2 linked regions of the Homo sapiens genome follow. The protein of the gene in region 2 interacts with the protein of the main gene of each other region in a pairwise test. Each region holds a gene or a part of one and is shown on either strand. Other genes may lie near its edges.

Region 1 (3,817 bases), on a different chromosome or scaffold from region 2:
CTTCCCCCTCCTCCAGGCTCAGTCTAAAGACAACACAGTACCAGGCACTAGCTGAGACATCCACATAGCATGGTGCCACAGTGCACATCATGTGGGCTTGCCGGGGCTGCAGTCCCCCTCACGGTACCCGATGCAGCACGGTCCCCCTCCAGCTTTGGAGCAGACCACTACTTTCAGGCTGGGCACCTGGCAAAGCATTTGGCGGTGTGGCGTGGAAGAGTGTGTGTGTGCAAAGCTGTGCACTCTTCATGAATGCAGTGAGATTCCCTCTGAGGAGGGGTGGGTACTGGGGCAGTTGCAGCCGACCAGCTTTGGGGGATCAGTTCAGCTAAGGTGAGGGCTCCCATGGGTGGAATTGCTGGAGTGGGGTTCTGAAGGCTGATGAGGAGTTTACCAGATGACCGAAGGGAGAAAGGCCCTTTGAGAAGAGGGACCGGTGTGTGTTAAGGGTCAAAGGGATAAAACAGGACTAGGATCTTGTAGGGAGTTTGTGGGAAGGAGATAGAGCCACACACATAGAGAACAGCAGGCTCTGGAAGATCGAGTCAGCTTGATTCTGCCACCCGCCTCCTGGAAAACAGGGATGGGGTAGGAAAATCAAGCATCTCCGACTTGAGCACTGCTCCTTCCCACCCTGCTGCTTCTGACCTGGGAGTCCAGTTGCTTGGGGTCATTCTCTCTTAAGCTCGGGGCCCTTATGGCCTTGGAGCACACAAAAAACAGTAGAATGTGGTGTTTGAGCTTCCAAGCCGGGCAGAACTGCTTCACCGCCCAGCGGTGTCATTGTTGCCTGTGTGACTTTAGGCCCATTGCTCCCCCTCTCTGGGCCTCAGTATCTCACTTGGAAATAAATGGAGTTTGGAATACCCACCTTCCAGGACTGTTGGAGGAGCTGGCAGAGGAGGCCAGTCAGAAGAGCGGTGGCCTGGCCCTCTCCTGCCTCTTCCCTCCAGGGGATGTCCCTCCAGGGAATGGGTCCCACTTCCATAAGGGGAGCCCCCAGTTCTGCCTTCCAAGCCCAAGAGCACCGAGGGATTGATGTGAAAGGGCTGGAGAACTGCCCTCTGCCCCACTCCCCATCCCTCCGCCCTTCCCCCGCTGTCGGCCCGCCACCCCCAGGCACTCACCTCACAGTGGACTGGTACACCAGGTCCTCTCGCTTGCGGTAGTTCTCCATGTGTGAGTAGTTGGTGGAGAACATGGCGTCGAAGGTGAAGATCTTTTGCTTGATGGTGCCACCATCCGTCACCTGCCACAGAGCACAGAGATAGCCACACGTGAGTGCTCAACCGGCCCTGGTCACCCCTTTCCCCAGGACACTGACAAGATGCAGGCAGGAAGCCCAGAAGAAGGACAGCCCCCATCCTGAGAATAAGGTAATAACCGAGGGCTTCCTGGAGGCAGCGATGTTTTAAGTTGCCTCCTGAAGGAAGAGTAGGAGCCAGCCTGGCAACGGGTGGGAGTTTTCTAGGCAAAGGGAACAGCAAAGGCCCTGCGGCAGGAAAGAGCAGTGTGCGCTCAGGGGAAGCTTGCTGCCTTCACAGCACCTGGAGAAGAAAGGAAGTGGGATGAGAAGAGGCTGCGAAGAAAAATGTGGGCCAGATCATGGAGGGTCTCCACAGCAAAGGAGCTCAGCTTCTCCTGAAGGCGGTGGTCCCCGGGGCCAGGATTAGATTAGATTTACAAGCTCCTCTGGCTATAGATTGAGGATGAATCGAAAGGGGCAAGACTAGAGGCAGGGAGCCCGGGAGGAGGCCAGGAATCCAACATCCCGGCACGGGCGATGCAGACGGGGACAGCGTGGGGCACTTGCCCTCGTCTTGGGATGGGCCAGGAGAGAGGACATGAAGTCCCCATTTCACCTAAGAATGCGGAAGTGGGAGAAGGCAGGGAGGTGGCGATGAAGCCAGCGCTGGAAGCCCAAGGCTGCCGGGCTGTCCCGCTGTTCATGGCTGATGGAAAGCGAACCCAAGCGTCCGTGCCCTCAGCTGCCGCCCGCCTGCTTCCCCACATCTGCGCTGCCTCCAGCTAATGAAAGTGTTACTCCACGAAGCAGCAAGGTATGTGTTGTCACTGTTTCAATTATTTATCTGTTTACTCGGCTGCAGTTTTTCCGCTTGTCTCAGCAACTCTATTATAGACTGGGAGCTTGCAGCCTCTCGCAGCTCAGCTGGGCTCTGCGCTAACAGCCTGCAATGGGGAGGCCTCATGCCTGGGCCTAGAGAAGTGGAATTAGCTCCCTGCGGCTCTGTGTGGTGGAGGCAGCGGGGAAAGGGGCAGGGAGGGGGCTGGCTAGGGACGGGTGACTCCAAGGGGCTGGGGTAGGGGGGATGCTGAAAGCAGCTTCCCCAGGCAAAAAGGTGAGGATTGGAGTGTGAATCTGTCCCCCTGTCACCTGCCTGGGAGTACTGGCCCTAGACACAGCTGGGCTCCTCTGGACACATATGTACCCAAGCTGACTTGGACCACATCTCTCTGACCTAGGTGGTGTTGCTACTGGTTTAGGAGAGACTCCGTGCATCTGGCCAGCACTGGTTGAGCAACCAGCTGTGTGCAGACACAGGCTACGTCTGTGCCAGTCACTTTCCATAGCCTGCAAGCTTTGTAAAGAGTAAGGTGGCCTCTGTGAGGACGGGGGATGGTTAGAATCATGAGAAGGCCTTCGCAGGCTCTGGGACCCTGAGAGGAAGCGGCAGTGAGACTTCCCAGGGCACGGCTTCTCCTTACCCCTCCGTAAGCCCACACCCCTCCTATCTCTGTCGGGACTTAGCGACATGTACACGCGTCACTTTCTTCCCCTCTGAGGGCTTGGCGCTTTCTGACCATGTGCAGAGGGGAGACAGAGGACCACTTCCTCCCACCTGGCTGCTTCTGCAGCACAGGCCCAGCTTCTGAAACGGGACCATGAGAGTGGAGGAAGATGAGGAGGACGGGGACAGGAGGATTCTCCTCTCCTCTTGGGATCCCTGCTGGCACTCACCCCAAGAAAGATGCTCACCCCAACCAACCACACCTTGACTCTGCGTCCACTGTCATCACCCAGAAGAATGTCCCTGAGTTGACTGTGTCCAGCTTGGCATGGGGTGGAGAAGAGAGTTGGCTGTACTTGGGATCAGAGCTTCCATCTCCCCACATCCCAATGTCCCAGCCTGGGGTAGAGGCCAAGACCCTCCAGGGGCTCCCCATTCTCCATGCACCCTCTTCCCATCCCCGCCTCACCCATTTGACTTTTTTACAGCCACCAAAGTACCTTTAAAGCAGGGCCTTTTCACTTGGGGGGTGATTTTGCTCACCCTAACCACCAGGGGACATACAGCAAGCTCAGGAGACATTTTTGGTTGTCACAACTGGGGAGGAGAGGTGCGGTTTGGTAGGTACCAGTGTCTAGCTGATAGAGGCTAGGAAGCTGCTGACCATTCCACTATGTCCAGGACAGCCCCTTGCCCCCCTCCCAAGAATTATCTGGCCCCCAAATGTCAACAGTGCCCAGGTGGAGAAACCCAGTTTTAAGCCCATCACATTGTGTGGCTGTACCAGGTCCCTGGGAACAGAGCCGAATAGACAAGAATGTTCCCATTTTGCAGGTAAAGAAACTGAGGCTTGGAGAGGCAAAATGATTCGGCTGAGGCCCCACACTAGGTTCCTGACAAGCGTCTGGCTTCTGGACCAGAGTTCACATCCCATCCCATCAGGCTGGAAGAGACTGCGGGTGAACTGAATGCCTCTCAACGTCCCTTTCCACCCCTGGTGGCCAGGCTCATTAGGAGAAAGGATGTCAGAATCTCAGTGGAGGTGTGAGGATTTTTCTCCCAAAGTC
Region 2 (3,817 bases):
AACTCTAACTGGAATTTTTTTCACTTTATCTATTTCATATCAGTCAAGGTATTTCATATTAGGTCCCACTCAAAGATGGCATGATGGATTCTTTAAATGCATAGTTTTGCCAACTCAAGAGAAAAGGAAACCTTAGAGGCTTGATTCTAAATGCCCATTCTGGGAAAGTAGTATTTAGCATGAAGCAACCATAATTCATGCTTGCCATTCAGACAGGAAGTGGTTAGATTAATCCTTCAGCAGATGTTTTCTGAAAGCTGAAATAACTTATCATGCATTACCACTCCTATAGCTTGATCACAACTACAAAGGGTAGGCCAGGGTCACATACATCTTCATCTTATTCCTTTCTTTCAAAAAAGTGTGATTAACAAGGTGATAAACTGAAGCAGTAACAGCTTCTATACAGAAACATGTTTTAAAATATTAGTTGTTGGCACCAGGCATCAAACAATGTTGGCAAGCTCTGAAAGCAAACAAAGAAATTACTTTTAACAAAAGCAACAATTTTTATTATCTTGCTTTATATTTAATGGAGTAGAACTATAAAGATTCTTAACTTTGAAAGCAGAAATATAAGTTGGATAGTAGTTGCAGATCTTTAATACCATTTTCAATTTCATTTATGAGCTGCTACATTATAAATGAGATGCTCTAAAATAATAATCGCTTTTGTTGTTGTTGTTATAGAACAATGAAAATTCCTGTTAGGAACACAAGTTGCTGTTTATATTTGCTTGTTCTCTTAAATAGTATGAGAAGAAGTAAGGTGGAGCTGTTGGGAAAGCCCATCGTGGACCTTTGGAGATTATCTTCTTGGTTCAGTCATCTCCACCACAGATTTTTAAGAGTGTGATTTCATAGTCTCCAGAAGTATCCGACTGCAAAGAATAAAATCAATGAAGAACAAATACAGTATAAATAATGGGAGACCATAAATGAATCAAATCCTATAGCACTAGGGAATTCACCTGGGTGTGAGACTCATGAGCTATACCATTTAGTAAAACATACCTGCAATTCCATCATTCATTCATACCTGAGTGTAATTACGTTCTGACCAGCATCTTCTTCACTGTAAGTAATATTTAGATTCTTCCTGATATACTGCAGTTAAATTTCAATTTTGGTTTAATAAAATAAGATTGCATCACTTACATAATATTGATTTCTATAAAAACTTCAAATTTTAGTTTTAATAATATTTATCGAACACTTGCTATTCAAAAGGCTTAATGTGTATTAACTACTTTAACCCTTTTAAAAGCTCTCTGCAATAGGTACTATACGTATCCCCCATTTAACAGATAAGTAAAATGAGAAAGACAGGTTAGGAAACTTGCCTCAAATCTTATCGAGAATAAGTGACAAAAGCAGGATTTGAATCCCTATATCCTGGCTCCTTAATACCCTGCTACACTGCCTAACTTAGGAAAGTGAAATGAACCACATTTTTAAAGAATATGTTTATCAGTTCCTTTTCCCAAGGCCAACCAAAAATAGACTGTTGTCCAGAAAAGATACTACGTGAGGTTGAGGCTTAAAGGGCAAAGATACCAAGTTTGTAACGCAAAAGACTTCACAGGAGGTAAAACTTGGCTTTCAACCTGGATTGTGTAAGATGCTCACATTATTTTTATTTTATTTGAGGTAACCCAACCAGTGAGCTCTTCTTATCACTTAAGTTTCACATTTGGAATGGCTGTTACTGGGGTGAATATTAGAGAAAGTGGTAATATAAAGGAAGTCTCAGAGAAGGCTCATTTAGTGAAGAAGTTAAGCATTACTTTCATAGTAAGACACAATAGGCCTTTATATATATTTTTCTGTTTTCTTTATTTCTTGTTCATTTGTCTGTTTCACAAAATATATGACAATATTCTTCGTTTTTATATAGATTTTAGTTCTTATGCTATTGGTTTTCCTGTCTTGCTCTGCAATAGCAGAGCTGACAAGTCAACAATGCTCCAGCTTTGTATTAAAAGAGCTCCTTCTAGACATCTCTGATCAGAGTTGTAAACAATTAGGCGTTCTACCAGTTAGTCAAGAAAATACATCCAAGTAACTCAAAGTATATTTACACCGCTAATGACTTACTTGACCTCTCCACATGTCTTACATGGCTCAAAGACATCTCAAACTCAATACATGTAAAACCAAACTCATAAACCTCCCCCCACTCCCCCAAAAGAAAAGGAAACAAACAAACAAACAAACAACCTAAAACCTGATCCTCTTGCAAGGAATGGCGCCACTGTCTGTTTTCCAAGTTAGGAACTTGAGTGTCATCCTTGCTATCTTCCTTTCCTCACACCAAGATATTATACCAAGTCCCTTAAGTTTCAACTCCTAAATATCTTTTGAGCCCTTCTTATTCTCCAGAATAAGAAGATCTTACAGGGATCTTTTCATGATCCTGATACTAACTCTTCAAGAGCTCATGCCCAGAACTCTTCAATGGCTTCCCCTTACTCTTAAGCTAAAGCCAAAATTCCTTAAACATTGCCAAAAAGGTCCTGCATGATCTGGCCCCCACATCCTCATTTTTCATTATGCTTCCTCCACCATGAGGCCTTTCCATTTGTCATTTCTTTTATTAGAATGTTCTACTGGCTCCCTTACCTCCATACATTTTGCCTTATTAATATCTACTTATTTTCCAGATCTGAATCATGACTTTCTCATAGAAGCCTTTCCTCTAAGTCAAGTCCTACTATTGTAGGATCTTTTAGCACAATGTCACTTTCCTTTACATTTAACATAGTTGTAATTCCATAAGGGCAGAAAATGTCTTCCCCCACCCTACCCCCTTTGCTTATAATTGTAACCCTGAGCCTAGCACATAATATGCATTTGATAATATTTTTAATTGAATGAGTGAATTCGCTGATCTCAAAGCTCTCTTTCAACTGAACTCATCTTGCTACTTGGATTTTATTTCTCAATATTCCCCAAGGTAGACCCTCTAATCAAACAAATGCCTTATTACTTCTTTCCCTCTTGCTTCTTCCCATATCTGTCTCTAGAGCATTTACTTTTAAGACCCTATTGATCTGGGGTCTTAAAGGTAAATGCTCCAGCAGAGCACCTGGCCCACAGGAGACACTCAACACATGCTTGTTGACCTGAAAGGCAGGCTCAAGACCCATTTCTCTAACCCCAAACTTCTTTTCTTCTCAATTCCGATAGTACTAGCTCTATATTCAACAATCTAGTATTTAATTGTCTGTTGTTTCAATTATTATCTTCTAATTGTTTCTTCATACCTACCTCAAGTCTCCACATAGATTATGAGTTGATTGTGAGTGGCTACTATATTTTCCCATAAAAAGCTTGGAATTGTGCTATTTATTAAATAAATACAGAATTTGTCTATGAAGGAAAACTACCAAAAAATATAATTTCATCTAAATTTTCCATAATATCTTCTTATAAAGTAGTAAGAGGTACACATTGGTTTTTCACCTCTGTTCTTCCTTGCCTTCTCCTTCCCACCGGTTACCCCCTGAGAAAGGTGTCAATGGACAAAGAAATGTCTAAACAATAGGTGGAAGGAAGAAAACAGGCAGGATGACAGGCTGAGATGATATGCAAAATGGAACTCTATCCCATGAATTTCAGAAACAACCATCTAAAAAGATCCTGTTCTTCAATAGCAAAAATGTAATGAGATTACTTAATAATATGTGTTAGGTGGTAGAAATAAAGAAATCTTGTACTATTTCAAACTGCAAACTGAAGTTTTCAGTGATGGATTTTTCTTTTCTATCAAACTACAAATAGTTTAAATGTTTTCTAATACAATAAGCCTCAATTA

Evidence for each region.
Region 1: the proteins of ANXA3 (region 2) and IGSF21 interact in a two-hybrid assay, tested with the Homo sapiens proteins (one large-scale study listed by BioGRID and IntAct).

The regions. Positions count from the first base shown.
Region 1 is NC_000001.11:18,289,298-18,293,114, reverse strand, and holds part of IGSF21 (immunoglobulin superfamily member 21 precursor), read right to left. Parts: exon of another isoform or gene 3,585-3,817; intron 2,061-3,584; exon of another isoform or gene 1,250-2,060; coding exon 1,128-1,249; exon of another isoform or gene 1-1,127. UniProt on the Homo sapiens protein: Involved in synaptic inhibition in the brain. Selectively regulates inhibitory presynaptic differentiation through interacting with presynaptic NRXN2.
Region 2 is NC_000004.12:78,607,120-78,610,936, reverse strand, and holds the end of ANXA3 (annexin A3), read right to left. Parts: intron 882-3,817; coding exon 822-881; 3' UTR 490-821; downstream 1-489. UniProt on the Homo sapiens protein: Inhibitor of phospholipase A2, also possesses anti-coagulant properties. Also cleaves the cyclic bond of inositol 1,2-cyclic phosphate to form inositol 1-phosphate.